Regions from separate parts of the Homo sapiens genome. Here region 2 is linked to region 1. Evidence: fine-mapped expression QTL. Tissue or cell type: lung. Region 1 holds a variant in brackets; the other region holds the start of a gene. All regions are shown on one strand. Distances are from middle to middle.

Evidence for each region. PIP is the estimated chance that this variant, and not a neighbour inherited with it, causes the effect.
Region 2: it holds the start of SPPL3, and the variant in region 1 is fine-mapped to the expression of SPPL3 in lung (GTEx, PIP 0.91).

The regions. Positions count from the first base shown.
Region 1 is chr12:120,861,239-120,871,744 of GRCh38, reverse strand. All of the region lies in intron 1 of SPPL3 (signal peptide peptidase like 3), which reads left to right. Among named protein-coding and RNA genes, the nearest start is that of SPPL3, 38 kb to the left of the region's middle. The variant C/T (reference allele first, on the strand shown) is at 5,728.
Region 2 is chr12:120,899,122-120,909,627 of GRCh38, reverse strand. It overlaps SPPL3 (signal peptide peptidase like 3), which reads left to right and starts at 5,270. Exons shown (of 11, transcript NM_139015.5): 1 at 5,270-5,783. The coding sequence starts at 5,761. It overlaps XLOC_009911 (a long non-coding RNA gene), which reads right to left and starts at 4,933. Exons shown (of 2, transcript NR_131215.1): 1 at 4,856-4,933; 2 at 1,554-1,973. RefSeq lists silencers at 5,071-5,430, 5,511-5,730, 5,871-5,920.

The DNA of each region.
Region 1 (10,506 bases):
TTTCATTCTTGTCACCCAGGCTGGAGTGCAGTGGCACAATCTCGGCTCGCTGCAACCTCCGCCTTGCAGGTTCAAGTGATTCTCCTGCCTTAGCCGCCCGAGTAGGTGGGATTACAGGCGTGCACCACCACACCCAGCTAATTTTTGTATTTTTAGTAGAGACAGGGTTTCACCACGTTGGCCGGGCTGGTCTCGAACTCCTGACCTCAAATGATCCACTCATCTCAGCCTCCCAAAATGCTGGAATTACAGCTGTGAGCCACTGCACCTGGCCATTTTATATAAAGGACTTTAGCATATGTGAATTTTGTTATCCAAGGGGGATCCTGGAATCAATCCCCCGTGGATACCAGGATACCAAGGGATGATTGTACTTTCAGTGATTTATCACTTTCATTTGTCAACAGATTTTATGTCAATTCTGCTTTCTACTTTGCCAGCTTTTTTTCTTTTTACTTTTTAAAAAACTGTGGTAAAATGTATATATAACATAAAATTTACCATTTTAATCGTTTTTAAATGTACTGTCATGTGGTATTATGTGTATTCACATTGTTGTGCAGTCATCATCACTGTTTACCTCCAGAACTTTTTCTTTTTTTTTTTTTTTTTTTGGAGACGGAGTCTCACTCTGTCGCCCAGGCTGGAGTGCAGTGGCATGATCTCAGCTCACTGCAACTTCTGCCTCCTGGGTTCAAGCGATTCTCCTGTCTCAGCCTCCCGAATAACTGGGACTATAGGTGCCTGGCGCCATGCCCGGCTGTTTTTTTTTGTGTTTTAGTAGAGACAAGGTTTCACCATGTTGCCTAGGCTGGTCTTGAACTCCTGAGCTGAGGCAATCTGCCCGCCTCCGCCTCCCAAAGTTCATCTTCTTAAACTGAAACTCTGTACTTATTAAACAGCAACCTTCATTTTCCTCTCACTGAGCCCCTGGCAGCCACCATTCCACTGTCTATGAATTTGACTGCTCTAGCTAGGTCACATAAATGGAATCCTTTATTTGTCCTTTTGTGACTGGCATACTTCACTTATCATGTCTTCAGGGTTCATCCCTGTTGTAGCATGTATCAGAATTTAAGAATTAACTTTTTTTTTTAAAGCTGAGTAATATTTGAATGTATAGATAGGCCACATTTTTCTTACCCATTCTTTCATCACTGGGCATGGGTTGCTTCCACCCTTTGGCTATTGTGAATAATGCTGCTGTGAACATTGCTGTACAGACATCTCTCAAGACTCTGCTTTCTGTTCTTCCCAGTTTGATTTTTGCATTTATCTTTGTATCTTTTTTCTTTCTTTTTTTCTGAGACCGAGTTTCACCCTTGTTGCCCAGGCTGGAGTGCTCAATCTCTGCTTACCGTGACCTCTGCCTCCCGGGTTCAAGTGATTCTCCTGCCTCAGCCTCCCGAGTAGCTGGGATTACAGGCATGCGCCACCACGACCAGCTAATTTTGTATTTTTAGTAGAGATGGGGTTTCTCCATGTTGGTCAGGCTGGTCTCAAACTCCTGACCTCAGGTGATCCACCCGCCTCAGCCTCCCAAAGTGCTGGGATTACAGGCATGAGCCACTGCACTTGGCCCTTTTTTTTCTTTATTACTTTGCTTTTATTCTGAATCTGAAGATGTGTTCTTTTTTCCATGTTGACAATATAATTTAAAACTGAACGTTTCTTTTACGGTCTGCATCCTTTACAGTAAGCTAAACATTTTTGGTTACATTTGTTGAAAACAGTATGAAAGATTCAATGGCTTTATGTCACTGACAAATTTTCATTTTGGACAACATGCTAGTGTGAGTAGTTTCTGGTCCAGTGAAATCCAGTTTTCAGATATTCCTATTTTTGGATTCTCAGCTGTGTATTTGAAATCATCACATTTGAAATTTGTTTGTTCCAGAACATATATGTTCTCATTCTTGTTTGTACTTGAGTCATGTTTAATCACATATATTTGTAGTATGCTTAGATGTAGTAGTTTCCATTTTCATAACTACTTTTCTGTTGATCCATTATGGTGAATTGCAGCTACAAAGTCATACTGTGTAGTAGCGAAAATGCTAACATAAGAAGTAAATAGTAGCAAGCAAAGGATTTTTAAAATATCCAACCTAGTCATATATACCCGTTTAGCTCAGTAGTTCTCAGCTGTGGTAATACCATTCTCTGGTGTGCATTTTTGAAATTCATGAGAACATTTTTGTTTGGCACCATAGTAGAGGTCGTTACAGGCATTTAATGGACAGGGTTTAGGTCTGCTAGATGTCTTGCAGTGTGCAGGAAAGTGCTACAGCGAATAACTATTCTGTCTCATATGGTGTTTGAAGCTCCTTTAATTAAGTCTAAAATATTTTACATATAAACACAAATCATTTTTTACATGATAAACTACATTTTCTATGAATGGCACTGTTGTGTAAATCAAGGAGTGAGTAATGTTTTTTCATTTAAGGCTTTACCAAGAGTTTGCCATTTTGGTAGAATGCATCACCTACAGCAGTACTCCTCATGGTATCGTAGTCACCATTCGACACACCTGATTCAGTCTGCATTTGTTGCTGTCACATTCATGGTGATGTTTCAAATTGATGCAAGCATTTTATTATATCATGTTATTTCCTAGTGTATTGGTGCTCGAGTTTTAATATATTAAATAGTGTTTTATTATGAATCAGCTTCCTTTTCTTTATTCCCCATATTATAGTTAGGACATTGTAATTTTTTAAGTTATGTAGACTATTAATATAATTTCAATATAATGAAGAGACTTAAAATTTTTCATTATGAACAGATGTTAGGTGTGGTAAACTTGGGAGCCAGTGAATTGACTGAATTATAGCAGTCGCTATGGCACCTCCACAGCCTTTAAGATTACTTCAGTATTTCTGTGAAAAGTTATTAATATTACACTTCAGATGTATATGAAAATATTATTTTATTGATTTTCCTTAGAAATTACCACACCATTGGCCGGGCATGGTGGCTTACCCCTGTAATCTCAGCACTTTGGGAGGCCGAGGTGGGTGGATGACGAGGTCAAGAGATTGAGACCATCCTAGCCAACTTGGTGAAACCCCGTCTCTACTAAAAATACAAAAATTAGCTGGGCATGGTGGCATGCGCCTGTAGTCCCAGCTACTTGGGAGGCTGAGGCAGGAGAATCGCTTGAACCCAGGAGGTGGAGGTTTCAGTGAGTCAAGATTGTGCCACTGCACTCTAGTGACAGAGTGAGAATCCGTCTCAAAATAAATAAATACAAATAAAACAAAAACAAAAAAAAAGAAAAAAGAAATTACTACACCATCTATCTGTTGACCACTTGACAAGTGATTGGGTGATACTGGTGGTCCGTGGACTACACTTTGAAAAGCAGTGCCACATATCCTGTATTGCTTTTGTATTAACCTTGTTGTCCTCAATTACTGAATTTGCTCTGTACTCCACTTTATCAGATACCATTTTTTCCCTAACATTTTTTTTTTTTATTTTGCAGTGACAGGGTCTTGCTCCGTCACCCAGGCTGGAGTGCAGTGGCATGATCATGGCTCACTGCACCCATGACCTCCCAGGCTTAAGGGATCCTTCTGCCTCATCCTCCTGAATGGCTGGGATTATAGGTACACACCACCATGCTTAATTTATTTTTTGTAAAGATGAGGTCTCACTGTGTTGCCTGGGCTGAACTATAATTTTTATACATAGGCTGGGTGCCGTGGCCCATGCCTGTAATCCCAGCATTTTGGGAGGCCAAGGCATGCGGTTCACTTGAGGTTAGGAGTTCGAGACCAGCCTGGCCAACATGGTGAAACCCCGTCTCTACAAAAGATACAAATTTAGCTGGGTGTGGTGGCAGGTGCCTGTAATCCCAGCTACTCGGGAGGCTGAGGCAGGAGAATCACTTGAACCCGGGAGGTGGAGGTTGCGGTGAGCCGAGATCATGCCTCTCTGCACTTTAGCCTGGACAACAGAGCGAGACTCTGTCTCAAAAAAAAATTTTTTTTTAATACATGAATTGTCTAATACCATAGTTGTTCAACTCTAAGATAAACTTCTTCTCAGCACCATTAAGTATGTATATATATATATACATTTTTAAGACAGAGTCTCGCTCTGTAGCCAGGCTGGAGTGATCTTGGCTCCCTGCAACCTCCGCCTCCCGGGTTCAAGCGATTCCTCTGCCTCAGCCTCTCAAGTAGCTGGGACTACAGGCACGTACCATCACACCCAGCTAGTTTTTTGTATTTTAGTGGAGACAAAGTTTCACCATGTTAGCCAGGATGGTCTCGATCTCCTGACCTTGTGATCCACCCACCTCGGCCTTCCAAAGTGCTGGGATTACAGGCGTGAGCCACCGCGCCCAGCTACACCATTAAATATTTTTGATGGTCCTTTGTAGTTCTTAATGTCAAAAGAAATTCACCAAGTGCTGTCGCAGATGTCATTGCCTGCATATATATAAACTTTGCCATGCATGGAGGTGTCTTTTCAACCATTTATCATCAGATTAAAGTTATTTGCACTGACAACATTACACATGGCTGAATTTTAAGTTACATTTAGATATGTAATTATTTTCTGTATCTTTCTCAAAAAGAGTGTGCTACAAGGATTATTTTATATGTAGGAAATAGCCTGTTCCAAGATAAATAATACAGTTAAAAGCAATAGAAATTGCTAAATCTTAGGAGTACATTGTAGAGTTTGAGAGATAATGGAGGTTACCTATGACTGACTCATGACTTAGGATGGATTATCACTCAAGCACTAATGTTTTAAAAAACGTTCCTTATTTTTAAGAGAAACTGCTTAATTTCTAGGGACATCTATTTGAGGAAAGATGAAACTGAGTTTAAAGACAAAATTCAGAGGATTCTCAGATGTTCTTTTATTTGCCTCAGAATTATGCTGTCAGTCCCAAAGATGTCAAAAAGAACAGAATTCTGACTTTGAGAAGTGACATGTTTGATACTATTGCATAACTGGAGATGGCCAAAAGTTCAGAAAAATCACTAGACTTTGAATGTTAAGAAAGTTTCAGTTCAAACTTTTATCAGATTCTGAAAAGGAAAGTGGTATGTAACTGTTTTGAGAAATGTATGCTATTATTTTACAATCCATTGTGTCTTAGAATAGAAGAAATACATTATTTCTCCGTTTTAAATTCTTTCCTTTTTTTGAACATGCCTTTTTCAGGATAAACTTTGCCATGTGTGGAGGTGTCTTTTCAAGGTAAATTATGCCTTACTATTTCAGTTAATTCAGAAAATGACTTTTGATGTTGACTATCTTTTAATAGTTCTAAATTCCTCAAATATAATGTTCTCTCTAGAGGTATATGTCCCAACCTTGCGTAATAGGAATTTCCTAATGTGTTGTTACACGGATTCCCAGGCTCTTTCCCTTAAGTTTATGATGTATAGTCTAGGGTGGAACCCAGGAATCTAGATTTGGCGGAGGTACCTTAGGTCACAGGCCTCCAACGTTTTTGGCACCAGGGACTGGTTTTGTGGAAGACAGTTTTTCTATGGATGGGGAGGAGGGGGAGGATGTTTTGGGGATGATTCAAGCACATTACTTTATGTTGCATTTTATTTCTGTTATTACACTGTAATATATAATGAAATATAATTATACAACTCACCATAATGGAGAATCAGTGGGAGCCCTGAGCTTGTTTTCCTGCAACTAGGCAGTCCCACCTGAGTGTGATGGGAATCAGTGACAGATCAT[C/T]GGGCATTAGATTCTCATAAGGAGCACACAACCTAGATCCCTCGCATGCACAGTTCACAATAGGGTTCTCACTCCTATGAGAATCTAATGCCACTGCTGATCTGACAGGAGGTAGAACTCAGGCGTTAATGTGAGCGATGGGGAGCAGCTGTAAGTACAGATGATTTTGCTCACTTGCCTGCCTGTCTCCTCCTACAGTACGGCCCAGTTTCTAACAGGCCACTAACTGGTGGCAGTCTGTGGCCTGGGGGTTGGAGACCCCTGCCTTAGGTGATTCTTCCAGGCTAGCTTGGGAAACACTGCTGTAGAGCGTAGGCTCCTCCCTGGGGATCCTGCCTAGTCTTGACTACTGTATAAAATTTCATTGCTACAACTTAGAATGCATCTACTATCCCAGGATTATAGTAGTATAATATATACTAATAAATACAGTAATATTTAGAATATTGGTAACAGGTTGTGAGCACTTAACTGTGTGTAAGGACCCATGCCAAACACTGAATAGGTTGTTGAATCCTCACAGCTTTCATAGATAGATACTATTGTACTCATTTTGCAAATAAGGATAAATAATCTGTACAAGGCCTTACAGCCAGTAAGTGGTAGACCCAGGATTGGAACCCAAGCAAACTGACTTTAGAGCCTGTGCTCTTAAACCACACTGTACTGGCCGTTGTAGATCAGATGCTGAGCTGTGCTGATTGTGCAGTGCATTGTAGAGCAGTGTACAGTTCGCTATGAGCGTGAGGTAACAGATATGGTAAGACATGAAACAGTGGCATTTTCATGTGGGAGGGTGTCAGAGCAGTCAGCAGTTATATTAAAACAGTAACCAATCTTGAAGGGCCACAAAGTGATCAACTGGGTAACTGTTGATGTTTCTCTAGATTAGCACTTCTCAAAGTGTGGCCCCTATTTCCCTGGAAATCCCTGAAAATCTCTCATGGGATCCTCAAGGTCAAACCTTTATATAGTATTTCTGAGAAGTTATCTTTCTCTCTGTGTTAACATTTGTATTGATGGTACTGCTGGTGCCTAAGCGTGAATCAAGGCAGTGGCACCAAAGTGTGCTCATAGACATTGTATTCCACACACTCTACAGTTTTGTTTTGTTATTTTTTTAACCCAGTTTCACTTAAGAATGCGTAAAAAAATACTCCTTTGGTTAACTCTTGACACTAGATTGCACATCTTTTTAATGCTTTGTGTGATGTAATGGGAAGGTCACACAAGGCACTTCTGCTGCGTGTTGAAGTACTGTGGTTGTTTTAAGGAAAAGCACCTGTAGGGTTGAGTTACATGCTGACCTAACCATCTTTTTTCATGGACATTTTTACTTTTAAGAATAACTAATAAACTATGGTTATTCAGCTTTGAGTATTTGGCAGATTTTGTAAAAAATGAAAGGACTGATAATATTTGTTGCCAGTGATAAGATTTTTGGGCTTGATGACTTCCCAGGTTTTGTTTTTGTTTTTGTTTTTTGAGATGGGGTTTCGTTCTTGTCTGGGCTGGAGTGCAATGGCATGATCTCGGCTCGCTGCAGCCTCCGACTCCCAGGTTCAAGCAGTTCTCCTGCCTCAGCCTCCCAAGTAGCTGGGATTACAGGCATGTGCCACCACACCCGGCTGATTTTTATATTTTTAGTAGAGATGGAGTTTCACCATGTTGGCCAGGCTGGTCTTGAACTCCTGACCTCAGGTGATCCACCTAGCTCGGCCTCCCAAAGTGCTGGGATCACAGGCATGAGCCACTGGGCCTGGCCTACAACTTCCCAGTATTTAAAGACTTCTGTGATGAGATCAGTGGTAATAGATGGAATTTTTAGTATTGGATAATGAAATACATAAGCATTTTGAAGAGCTCACAACTGAGGAAACAAATATTAACTTACCAGTGCATGATGTACAGAATTATGCATGGGTAAGGATCCATTCAGAGTGAAGGCAGACATGGATTTTAATGTAACAGAGTACAGAAAGTTCATTGATAGGGTTTTAGATTTTACATTGGAGCTAACCTTTAGGAAACTACCATCTAGGCTGGGTGTGGTAGCTCATGCCCGGGATCTCAGCACCTTGGGAGGCCAAGGTGGGAGGATTGCTGGAGGCCAGGATTTCAAAACCAGCCTGGGCAGCAAGCAAGGCTCCATCTCTGCAAGAAAAAAAGAAAAGAAAAGAAAAAGAAAGCTACAAGAAAAAAAAAAAAAAAAGCTAAATGTGGTGACTTGACCCTGTGGGCCTAGCTACTTGGGAGGTTGAGGCAGGAGGATAGCTTCAGCCCAGGAGTTCGAGGCTACAGTCAGCTGTGATCACTCCAGCCTGAGCAATAAAACGAGAATACATTTCAAAAAGAATTAAAAAACCTACCATCTGTAGAATTTCATTTCAGTATTGAAGAATAATATCTACGATTACCTGAAAGGCTCTTAAAATACCACTCACATTTTAAACTATAGATATGCATGCAGTTGAATTTTCTTCATGTACTTGAACCAAACTATATATCATAGTACAGATTAAATGCCGAAGCAGATACGAGAATACTGCTGACTTCGATTAAGCCAGACATTAAAGATATTTGCAGAAATGTAAAACGGTACCATTCCTCTCACTAATTTTTACTTTCAAAAGAGTTATTTTTCATTAAAACTTTTTTTTTTTTTCTTTTGAGATGGAGTCTCGCTCTGTCACCCAGGCTGGGGTGCAGTGGTGTGATCTCAGCTCACTGCAACCTCTGCCTCCTGGGTTCAAGTGATTCTTCTGGCTTAGCCTCTGGAGTAGCCGGGATTATAGGCATGCACCACCACACCCAGCTAATTTTTGTATTTTTAGTAAAGATAGGGTTTCACCATGTTGGCCAGGCTGGTCTCAAACTCCTGACCTCAGGTGATCCACCCACCTCAGCCTCCCAGAGTGCTGGGATTACAGGTGTGTGCCACCATGCCTGGCCTAGATGTTGTGATAAATATATATTTGGTCTTTATCCCAGGTTCCTGGCATAATAGCTTTTATAATAAAGCCCTTAGAATTTCGTGATAGAGGAGAGAGGAGCATCTTTTGTTATTCATGAGAAGTCCCTTTCAACCCTACCTGAGTTTATGCTAATGAGCTGAGTCTTAGTGGGCTCCTAAATAGCTTCTGGATGATGACTGGTTGCTAGAAGAACCAATAGAGGGTTGGAAATATAACCCCTTCCCTCAACCTCTGCAGAGGGGAGAGGGGTTGGAGATTGAGCCCAGCCAGGAAAGGCCAGTGATTTAATCAATCATGCCTGTGTAATGGAACCTCCAAAAAATCCTTAAAAATTGAGTTCTGAGAGCTTCTGGACTTGTGAACTGGTGCTGGGAGGACAGTGCACCCACCGAAGGCATGGAAACTTTGCATACTCCTCTCAGCCCTCCATTCCTTGCCCTGTGCATGTCTTTTATTTTTCTGCTCCTGAGTTGTATCCTTTATAATAAACCAACAATAGTAAGTAAATTGTTTTCCTGAGTTCAGTGAGCCATCCTAGCAAATGGTCAAACCTGAGAAAGGGATTGTGGAAACCCCTAACTTTGTAGCTGATGAGTCAGAAGTACGGGTGACCTGGACTTGATACCGGCACCTGAAATAGAGGCAATCTCATGAGACCTAGCCCTTAACATGCAGGGCCTGTGACACCTTTGGGTAATAGTGTCAGAATTGAATTGATGAACATCTAATTATTATTGGAAAATTGGTTATTGACATGGAAAAAACCCACACATTTGGTGTCAGAAGTGTTAAGAGTAGAAACAGATCATAGAAATATGTGTAATTTATGTTAATGTATAATGAGTTTATTTTAAAATGAATAAATATTTTTCATATTCACAGTTTCAATGTCTAATATGGTAAATATCAGGAAGTATAATCTATATAAACAAATGCCCTTTGGGGTCCTCAACAAGAGTCCTGAACTAAAAAGTTTGAAAACTACTTCTCTGGACACTGTGGACATTATTTTCTGTAGTACTGCCTACATTGTAATTCATGTTCACTTATTTACTATTGTTTTGGAATCTTAATACCTTCAAGTATGTTGCTCAAAATTCTAGAATTGAAGACATGAAGATGTTGAGCACTACAGCCCAAAGTGATATTCCCAATCCTTTGAGTTCCCAGTCCCTCTCTTACCCCTAACTCCCTCACAGCCCTTCTGTTCTCTCCTTTTGGTATCTCAGAAATCTTGGGTATCAGAAATCATTTCATAATACAAGTAACAAGGAATAAGATAACCTGTTAGAAGATTGGATTGGTTTTTATATGTTACAATTTCAGGCATATGATTTTTAAATCTGCCAGAGAGGTGATTGTATACTGAGTAATATCAGTCAGCGTACTCCCCTGCCAGATAAACCAGGACTCAGTCCGCTGCTAGGATGCGTTTCAATGAAGACATCTGACCTGTGTGGTATGTCTTCAGGGCATTGTAGTTGACAGTAGTAATGCAAGGATCTACCACAGCCTGTTTAAAATATGACCAGAAATGTGGCTGCTGGAGTAGCTAGATGAAATATAGACCACACTGATAAAAAAAAATCTTACTCTTTTTCCCTTCCTGTTATTTATTGCCAACACCCTTTTCAAGGATCTGTCCTTTTGGAGAATTTTTGTACTTTGTCTCCTTCCTTTTTCTGTTTTTCTAGCATGTTCTCATTTAAGAATAAGCAAACTATGGCCTGCAAGCCAAATCTGACCTACAACCTGTTTTTGTAAATAAAGCTTTATTGTAACACAGCCATGCCCATTTGTTTAC
Region 2 (10,506 bases), 38 kb before region 1:
CATGTGGGTAAATTCAGAGGACAATGAGAATGCAGAGAAGTATCTAACCCAGCCTAGGTTTTGGTCAAGTGAGATTTCCTGGAGGATGTGACATTGCAGTCAAGCCCCGAAAACTATAAGCAGCAGTTAAGAGGCAATGGGAGGCCGGGCGCTGCGGCCCACACCTGTAATTCCAGCGCTTTGGGAGGCAAAGATGGGTGGATCACTTGAGATCAGGAGTTTGAGACCAGCCTGGCCAACATGGCCAAAGTCGTCTCCACTAAAAATACAAAAAAAAATTAGCTGGGCATGGTAGTGGTGGGCAACTGTAATCCCAGCTACTCGGGAGGCTGAAGCAGGAGAATCACTTGAACCCAGGAGGCGAAAGTTGCAGTGAGCTGAGATGGCGCCACTGCACACCAGCCTCGGCGACAGAGTGATACTTTGTCTAAAAAAAAAAAAAAAAAGAAAGACCCAATGGGAAACCTCCTGGACTTGATCAGAGGATTGGAAGCAAAAAAGAACACAGCCCGTGGGGAAGCTACAAGCAGGTCACTATGGAATATAAACAAAGTGCACATGCATGTGTGTGGGGGCGAGGGGTGGATGACAGAGGGGAGAAATGGCCTGGAGGGACTGGTAGAGCCAGGTCAGACCTAAGCCTTGATGTTCTCAGAAACAATGCTTAAGCAGCCCAGACAGACCTTGTAATGCCAGCTTCCTGGAGTCTGTGCCTAAAGCAGAGGACCCATCCTGGGGGAGACTCCCCAAGTCTCTTTTGAACACACTTGGTGGAAGAAGCTATCCTATAATTACTGTGGTGATAATTAGAGGCACCTGCATGGCCTCTTTCTTTCTTTTTTTTTTTTTGAGACGGCGTTTCGGAGTTTCGCTCTTGTTGCTCAGGCTGGAGTGCAGTGGCACGATCTCGGCTCACCGCAACCTCCGCCTCCCGGGTTCAAGCGATTCTCCTGCCTCAGCCTCCCGAGTAGCTGGGATTGCAGGCATGTGCCACTACCACCCGGCTAATTTTTGTATTTTTAGTAGGGATGGGGTTTCTCCATGTTGGCCAGGCTGGTCTTGAACTCCCGACCTCAGGTGATCTGCCCGCCTAGGCCTCCCAGTGTGCTGGGATTACAGGCATGAGCCACCGCACCCAGCCTCCATGGCTTCTTTCAGCAAATATTGCACAAGCTGTAGCGCTCTCACCTGCAGTGGGGTGCAGAGAGACAAAGCACCCCTCCTGGGGGAGCCTAATGCCTGAGTCTCTTGTGAAGCACACCTGACTCCCTGGCTGAGGCCCAAAGGTGTCACAGATACACCTGGGGCTGCTATAGCTTGGAGCTGAGTGCTGCTGGCAGGGAGACTAAAAGTCACTCCCAGTCGGGTGCGGTGGCTGACGCCTATAATCCTAGCACTTTGGGAGACCAAGGTGGGCAGATTGCCTGAGCTCAGGAGTTCGAGACCATCCTGGCCAACATGGTGAAACCCCGTCTCTACTAAAAATACGAAAAATAGCTGGGCATGGTGGTGGGTGCCTGTAATCCGAGCTGCTTGGGAGGCTGAGTCAGTAGAATGGCTTGAACCCAGGAGGTGGAGGTTTCAGTGAGCTGAGATTGCGCCACTGCACTCCAGCCGTGTGACAGAGCAAGACTCTGTCTCAAAATAAAATTAAAATTAAAAAGTCACTCCCCAGATGCCACAGTCTGGGCAGCTCCCAGGCAAGCCACAGGCTTCAGATTTATTCCAACCTTGCCCTCTGGGGAGACTTCAAGCCTGTAGAGATGTTGACTAGGATCTAGAGGTGCTGTCTACTTCTCGGCAACCTTAGCCTGAGATGCTCAAGCCATTAGTCTCTGGGCCCACACTTCATCTTCCTGGGACCAGGTACACGGTGTTTCCATGGCCTGGACATCATCCCAGCCCTGGCAAGTGCTGTGTAGCTTCTTCTAGGGTCTGCAGCCACATTTCCTCAAGAAACACTTCGGAGGTCTCTGGTTCAGATAGAGAGAAGAAAACCTCTCCTCATTCACCATACCTTCACCAAACCCCTTCTCCCTCCTTTCTTCCACCAGATTTTTCCCACTGAAAAGAATGGTCCCTTTGCTTCTGGGAAGGCCTTGACTTTCCTACTCTAGCAGCTCCCGTTTCATTCATCCAACACCAACTTTCCACTTGGCTTTGACTTCTATGACTCACTGGGAACCAAAGCCCAAGTGAATCGCCCAGAGGCTCAGTGTGGCATTTTCGTTTCAAAAGTGACATGTCTGGTCTGTTTTGTTCTTAGCTCTCCAAAGAAAAAGCTTCTGCATCACCCAAAGCCACTTCCAACGGCTTCTGGCCTTTCCCATGGGACCTAAAGCCTCACTCTGTGCCCCTTTGAAACTCAGAATGACTGCGTCACGTTCAAGGACACAGTTGGCTTTATGTAAAAGCACTTGGCAAGGTTGTGAGAGCTAAATGAATGTCAAGAATTTAGCCCCTGGCCGGACGCGGTGGCTCATGCCTGTAATCCCAGCACTTTGGGAGGCCGAGGTGGGCAGATCATTTGAAGCCAGGGGTTTGAGGAGTTTAGCCAACATGGTGAAACCCCATCTCTACTAAAAATAAAAAATTAGCTGGATGTGGTAGCGCACGCCTGTAATCCCCGCTACTTGGGAGGCTGAGGCAGAATTGCTTGAACCTGGGAGGCAGAGGTTGCAGTGAGCTGAGATCACGCCACTGCACTCCAGCCTGAGTGACAGAGCAAGACTCTGTCTCAAAAACAAACAAAAAAAGTAATTAAATTAAAAAAATTTTTTAAAAAAGAATTTAGCCCCTTTGCCTTCTCATCTCCCCTTAATATCCCTGCATCTGGTGGGTTTATGGCTGGACAGATCTTTGCAGGCCAGTGTCTTCTTGTGAATAGTGAGACTAAGGGTCCCTGGTGATTTGATATTTTCTTGTTGCCCTGCCTCAAACCCTCCCCTGGACCTCGATCTTTTTTTTTTTTTTTTTTTTTTGAGACGGAGTCTCACTCTGTCGCCAGGCTGGAGTGCAGTGGCGTGATCTAGGTCCACTGCAACCTCCACTCCCCGGTTCAAGCGATTCTACTGCCTCAGGCCTCCCAAGTAGCTGGGACTATAGGCATGGGTCACCACGTCCAGCGAATGTTTGTATTTTTAGTAGAGATGGGGTTTCACCATGTTGGCCAGGATAGTCACGACCTCTTGACCTCATGATCCACCTGCCTTGGCCTCCCAAAGTGCTGGGATTACAGGCGTGAGCCATCGCGCCCGGCCTGGACCTCAATCTCATCAGTGAGCCTTTTCCCAGGGCTCTCTGATAGAGCTTTGGAGGAAACACTTGGAACCTAACTGGTCCTGGCACCTGGCAGTGGGGGAATAAGGAAGGAGAGCTTTGCTTCTGAAGGGAAAGTGTACTTGGCTTTCTCTTTAAAGGGTTTCCCTTGGGGAACAGGCAAGCGGCAGATGTATGGGCAATGGCCAACTGATCCATTTGGAGATAGATTCAGGGTGTGGTGTTCCCTGTAAGCCTGGGCAGGCCCTGGGAAACTGGAGCAGAGCTAAATTCTGGCCTAAAGTTGGGCAAGCTGCAGAGAAGCTTGAGTACGTTGGTTTCAGGTGTGTGAGTTTTGCCTTCTGCAGAGAAACAGGGGGGTGAAGGGTGGGGGTGGAGGGGTGTCCAGGAGGGTTAGTGTATCTGTTGCCCAGGCATGTTTCTAAATTCTGAAGCTGCACTGGTTAATCATTTTTATTCATGAACACAGTAACTGGCAAGGAGGCTTAGCTGGGCCCTCAAAGTCTGGCCTCAGTGCACCTTCTCAGTATATTTTCTCAACACTCCAGCACAAATCACCCATCCCACTCTCGGATTCAAGCTCACCAGGAATTGGGCCTTACTTCATGCCATTCTTTCTTTCTAGAATGCCTTTTCTTTTTTTTTTTTCTTTTTCTTTTTCTTTTTCTTTTTTTTTTTTTGAGACAGAGTCTCGCTGTTGCCCAGGCTGGAGTGCAGTGGCGCAATCTCGGCTCACTGCAAGCTCTGCCTCCGGGGTTCACGCCATTCTCCTGCCTCAACCTCCTGAGTAGCTGGGATTACAGGCGTCCACCACCACGCCCGGCTAATTTTTTGTATTTTTAGTAGAGACAGGGTTTCACCGTGTTAACCAGGATGGTCCCGATCTCCTGACCTCATGATCCACCCACCTCGGCCTCCCAAAGTGCTGGGACTACAGGCGTGAGCCACCGCGCCCGGCCAAAAGAATGACTTTTCTTTGATAAGCCTCTCACCCTTTCAGACGGCCTCATCCACTCCTGGGGAAGCATTCCGCAGTACCTGGGGCCTCAATTAATCTCTCTCTTCTCTCTCCATCTAAGCTCCAGATTCACTTTGTTGGTCTCTGGTCTAGCTCTACCGTGTTTATTTCTGTGCCGGTTTCCAGACCTCCAAATGGACGGTTTCCTGAGCCTTCTGCCCTTGCTGTTCCCTCTGCCAGGAACTCTTTTCCTGTGGATCTTTGCAAGGCCAGCTCTCTGTCATCATTCAATATCAGCTCAAATGTCACCTCCTAAGCGAGGCCTTCCTTGACCACCCTATCTAAAGTAACCCACACCTCTGCTCACTCTCTGTCCCCTCACCTTGTGTTACAAAATGTGTTTTTGTAAAACTTAGCAGCATCTGAAATTATCTTATTTGTGGGCTTGGACTATGTCTCTTCCTTTAGAATGTAAGCTCTAGGAAGGCAGAGTGAGTTGACACATGGTTGGCACCCAACAAATATCTGTTGATTGATTCTGTGAAGGCAAGCGTGGGGTATTCGACTTGGTGCCGGGCCTGGGCGCAATAAAGGTTGGCTGCCTGGAATATTTGCTACCTGAATGAATGAACCAAGGAACATACGAACGAAGGAATGCAGCCCTCTGCCTGTTGACTGACAGGTTGACTGACAGTTGGGGGGCCCGTGGCCAGCAGACTGTTGACTGACGGTTGACAGCTGAGTGGCAGCCAACAGACGCGCATCGGGGTTCCCGATTGGCTGGTGCAGCAGCCCCTCGGAGAGGGGCGGAAGAGGGTACCCGAGGCGACATCTCCGCGTGGGGAGGGGGGCGGCACCAGGCAGCGGGAGGCGGCCCAACTGCTCTGGCTGTGCGAGCAGCAGCCGCCTAGAACCCAGGAGCCGACGTCTCTGCGCATGGGCCCGGCTCGAGGGGCGGGGCGCGCATCACGTGAGCGTGTTTTGGGCACGTGACCCGCGCGGGGCCAAGGCTCGCCCCCGCCCCCGCCCCTCCTCCCCTCGGCGGGTGTGATCGAGTGGCCTCGCCTCATCGCCTAGCGCCCCCCTCAGTCGCCGCCGCCTCCGCCCGCCGGCCATGTCCCCCGGCCGCCGCCGCCGCCGCCCGAGCGCGGCGCTCCCGCGGCCCCGCGCGCAGTGAGCGCGGGCCCGTCTTGCCGTTCGCCCGCCCCAGGGCCCCCTTGTTCTCCGCGCCGCCGCCGCCGCCATGTTGGGTTTGGAGCTGCAGCGGAGCCGCCGCCGCCGCCGCGGGTGAGGGAGGCCGAGAGCGGAGCCCGCCCCGCCCCGGGGCCCAGGGAGCGGGGCCGCTTCGGAGCCCGGCCTCTCCCCGCCAGCCGCCTTCCCGGCCCGCCGTGCAGCCAGCGAGCCAGCGAGCGAGCAAGCAAGCAAGCACCGGACCCCGGCCGCGCCTTCAGCTACGGCCCGAGCGAGCCCGCCGCCGCCGGGCCCGGCCACAGCCTGCAGCGGAGCCCACGAGAGGCAGCGCCATGGCGGAGCAGACCTACTCGTGGTGAGTGCGGGGCTCCGGGAGGCCGGGAGGCGGCAAGGGTGGGGGTCGGGGCGCCGGCGCGGCCCGCCGAGGGGAAGAGGAGGAAGAACAGGTGCGTGTCGTGGGGGGGGGGCGCGGGTTGGGGTGCACGCCCCCCTCTTCCCCACCGGAGGGGGCGGCTGGCGCGCACGGAGGGCGGTGAGTGGCCGGGGACCTGGCGTCCGAGAAGGGGAATGGAGGAGGAGGCAGCGGCGGATGTCATCTGGCTATGGGCGGAGCAGGTGATGGAGAAGGGGAGCATGACCCCGGGGGTGGGAATCCCACGGATGGGAAGTTGAATCCGACAGGCACCCCGGAACTGACTCGTGGGGGTGTTTCCTGGGCAGGAGGACTCGAAGGGGTGGAGAGAGGCAGGCCAGGGCAAAGGTGGGCCGCTGGGCTGAGAGGAAGCTCTAGTGAGAACAGGTGATAGAGGCAGAACTTCTAAGTTGGGAGAGTGGAGCGGCCGCCGCTTGGCTCTGGGACAGGGAGCGCAGGGAGAGTTGGTGAGGTGGGCAGAGGCCCGGGAGTGAGGGGAGGAAAACTGCGGGGGTAGAGTCCACGAACCTTGGAGGGGAGTCACTGGTGAAGAGGTTGGAAGAGGAGCCTGAAGAACCTGTTTCCTTTTCCTTCTGGAAAAGGAATTCGTTGGTGACAGTGGGGCATGGGCAGAGTCTTTGTAAGGGTTGGTACTATTATTTTCAGAGGAATGGCGCCCAGGGCCAAGTGTGGAGGTGGAGGACCTGCAAGTTAAGTTCATTTCTGTGGGGCTTTTAAAGTTAGTAAGTAGCTCGTTAAGGGCCGAGAAGCGAGAAGCTACTGTGTAGTTTATGGGGTGACAACCTACATATCCGGAGAAGGGAGTGCCAGGGTTTGGGGGAAGGAACATGAGGGGTCTCCCTTTAGCATGTAGAGGTGGGATATTTGCAGGACGGGTTGAAGGAATGATGGCAGTATCCATGAAGAGTGGAAATCGGGTAGTGAGAAGGAAGTCATAGCTGGAGAGTGAGGAAGCAAGAAATGGCATGATCGTAGGAGTGGGGGACCTGATTGCAATTTAGAGAAATGGTTTGAAGATGGTTTACTCTTGAAGCAAATGTGGTTTGGGACAGAACTGTAGACATTCCCTTCTTAGAAAAGAGCATAATAGAATGGGACGAGCATGCCGTGTGGAGTTGGAAGACCTATTTCGGAGGTCCGGTTTGCCACCAACTTGCTTTGTTGATACGACATGGTAGTGAGTTCTTCGGTCCTTTTTCCTTACCTATAAAATAGAGGGAATTACCTTTTCCACAGCCTGTAAGGATTAAGTGAGTACATTTAGAAAGCACTTGGCAAACTGTGAAGTGCCACAGATCTTACTACATTAATTATAATTATCCTAGAGAAACATCTAAGAAATGGGTAATATCAGAAAATAAGGAATGGTTTTAGGTAGAAGACTTTGAGTGGATTATTTATAGTGTTAGAGGTTATAAGTCAGTAACTCATTGAGTCTTCACATAAGAGAAAGGGAGTTGGGGATTGAAGATGATAATTCTTAAGAGAACTTCATTGATGTATGTGCAATCTCAAGAAGAAGGTAACTGAGAGACAAAGTAACCCTAAAGGAAGAATTAAAATCTTGGTGAACACGTGCTCTAAAAAGAGGTTTAAGCTAATTTCATAGTTTTGCGTGACAGCTGCCTTTCAGTAGCAGGTCGTAGGGAACACAAGATTACAATTTCAGCTTCCTTCTGGACAGAGTAAGAAATGAAGGTAAAGGTGTTTCTGTCATGCCTTGTGGTTACTCATCTTGAGCTTCTCATACTCTGGCCCTAATGGCTGTGGCCCTGAGAGTCCTAATGGCTGCTTTGCTGTTTTTACTGTGCTGTACAGAGGCCCTGGATGGTTGAAAGAATAGAAAACTCAGTGGTCAAGAAATGGGGAAAATGAAAATGTTTTACTAGGTAGGTTGGACACACACGACCTCTCTCTGACATTAGTTGGCTCTATTAAGGAGGGATTACTTTGTGAAGTTTGACAATTTACAAATTTATTCTACTAAAATACTTCCTTCAATGTCAGCTCTGTTTGCTTTACAGGCAAAGAAACTCCTTGAAATCGGGGAGCTTAGCCCCTCAACCTTTGGCAGGTTTTGAGATGAAGAAAATTTTTACATTATCTGGAGAGAGGGTGGCATATAAGGGGAGACTGGGGAAAGTGGGCAGTTTCCTTTTTTTTTTTTTTTTTTTTTAGGACGGAGTCTCGCTCTGTCACCCAGGCTGCAGTGCAGTGGCGCCATCTCGGCTCACTGCAGCCTCCGCTTCCCGGGTGCAAGCAATTCTTATGCCTCAGCCTCCCGAGTAGCTGGGACTACAGCCACATGCCACCATGCCCGGCTTTTTTTTGTATTTTTAGTAGAGATGGGGTTTCACCATGTTGGCCAGGCTGGTCTCAAACTCCTGACCCAGTGATCTGCCCACCTCGGCTTCCCAAAGTGCTGGGATTGCAGGCATGAACCACCGTGCCCGGCCACAGCTTCCTATTTAATAGTTGTTCCTGATTCAACTGACTAATAATATAATAAAATAAGGAACTATACACATGGCATTAAATATACACATTTAATTCTCACAAGTTTCTGAGGTAGGTGATATTTCCCTGTTTCACAGAGGAAGAAACAGGCTTGGGAGGCCAAGTGGTATGTTTAAAGTACTTCACTTGTGATGCTTTATTTTGTTTGACATGAATTCTCCCATCATTTTACTCATTCTTATTGAAATATAAATATGGAAAAGGTATTCCAGTAGTCTATGTAGACTGATTTTTGGATTATCTGTCATTTTGCAGTTATCTTTGTCACTCTTCCCTTGGCTTGTGCAAACAATCAAGAGTTGATTACTTTTTTTTTTTTTTTTTTTGTGAGACAGGGTCTCACTCTTTCGCCCAGGCTGGAATGCAGTGGCCCGATCTAAGCTCACTGCAGCGTCTGCCTCCCAGGTTCAGACAATTCTCCTGCCTCAGCCCTGCAGGTGGCTGGGACCACAGACGTGCACAACCACGTCTGCTAGTTTATTTATTTATTTATTTTGTATTTTTACTAGAGACAGGGTTTTGCCATGTTGCCCAGGCTGGTCTTGAACTCCTGACCTCAAGCAGTCTGCCTGGGATTGGCCTCCCAAAGTGCTGGGATTACAGGCGTGAGCCACCACACCCGGCAATTGATCTCTCTTTTTTTTTTTTTTTTCCTTGAGACAGGGTCTCACTTTATCATGCAGGCTGGAGTGCAGTGGCAAGATCACAGCAGTGCCTCCAGGGCTTAAGCGATCCTCCCACCTCAGCCTCCTGAGTAGCTGGAACTACAGGTGTGCCCCACCACGCCCGGCTGATTATTGCATTTTTTGTATTGTGTTTCGCCATGTTGCCGGTGCTGGTCTTGAACTCAGCCCAAGTGATCTGCCTGCTTTGGCCTCCCGAAGTGCTGGGATTATAGGCGTGAGCAACAGTGCCTGGTCCTGCTGTTTTTTTTTTTAAACAGATTTGCACTTTGTTTGTATGTGACCTTTGGAAAAACCAAACTGTGGAGACTGTTGTGCCACTAAAGATTTGTCTGAGGATGGACTCGGTGAAGAATATAAAGGCATATGCAGATGGGCTCCCTTAGGATTTTCGTATAATAAGATGTAAATTATTGGCAATGAGTTGATCATTACTGGAGCTGGGTGATGAGTACATGGAGGTTTATTATTCTGTTGACTTTTACATGTTTAAATTTTTCAGAATAAAAAGTTTTTTCAACAAGGCCCTTTATATGTAAGTTCACGTGTGCTTGCTCTCTTCCTAGCAAATTCTATCAAAATCCTGTACTCAAGGGTTCAACTCAAATTCTGCTTAGCTGTGAAGCATTTTCTGACCACCCCATATGAAAATGATCTTTTTTTTTTTTTTTTTTTTTTGAGACAGGGTCTTGCTCTGTCGCCCAAGAGTGCAATGGCATGATCTCCGCTCACAGCAACCTCCGCCTCCTGGGTTCAAGCGATTCTTGTGCCTCAGCCTCCCGAGTAGCTGGGATTACAGGCGTGTACCACCATGCCCGGCTAATTTTTTTGTATTTTTAGTAGAGATGGGATTTCACCATGTTAGCCAGGATGGTCTTGATCTCCTGACCTCAGGTGATCCTCCCGCCTCAGCCTCCCAAAGTGCTGGGATTATAGGTGTGAGCCACTGTGCCCGGCGATCTTTTTATTTTTAATACTTACAGTTCTGTCTGCATAATTCCTTCCTTATCTCATGTAAATGCCTAATCTAACTATATTGTAAACTCCTTGAGAGTAAGGACCATATGACACTAACCTTGGTTCTCCCATAGTGCCTAGCACATTGTAGTACACATAGACCCTACTGAGTAAATACCAAGTGGTAAATATGACACTGAATTTCAGGATGGTTCATCCTTTGTTGAAAGAATATTAAACATAAGGAGGATGCTACTGAGTGAAAAATAAGTGTTTATAACCCAAGTACTTATCAAAGAGGGCTTTTTGTAACTTGGTTTCCTGATGTACCAGTGCTGCAAGAATGAGGAATGCCATCCTTTATTAAAGTTCTAAATAAAAGCTATTAACAGAATAAATTGAAATAATTGGTAGTAACATCAGAATCTTTATCACAATTTAACTACAAGATTCTCCTTATAGCCTTTTTTCTCACATACACTGAGGAA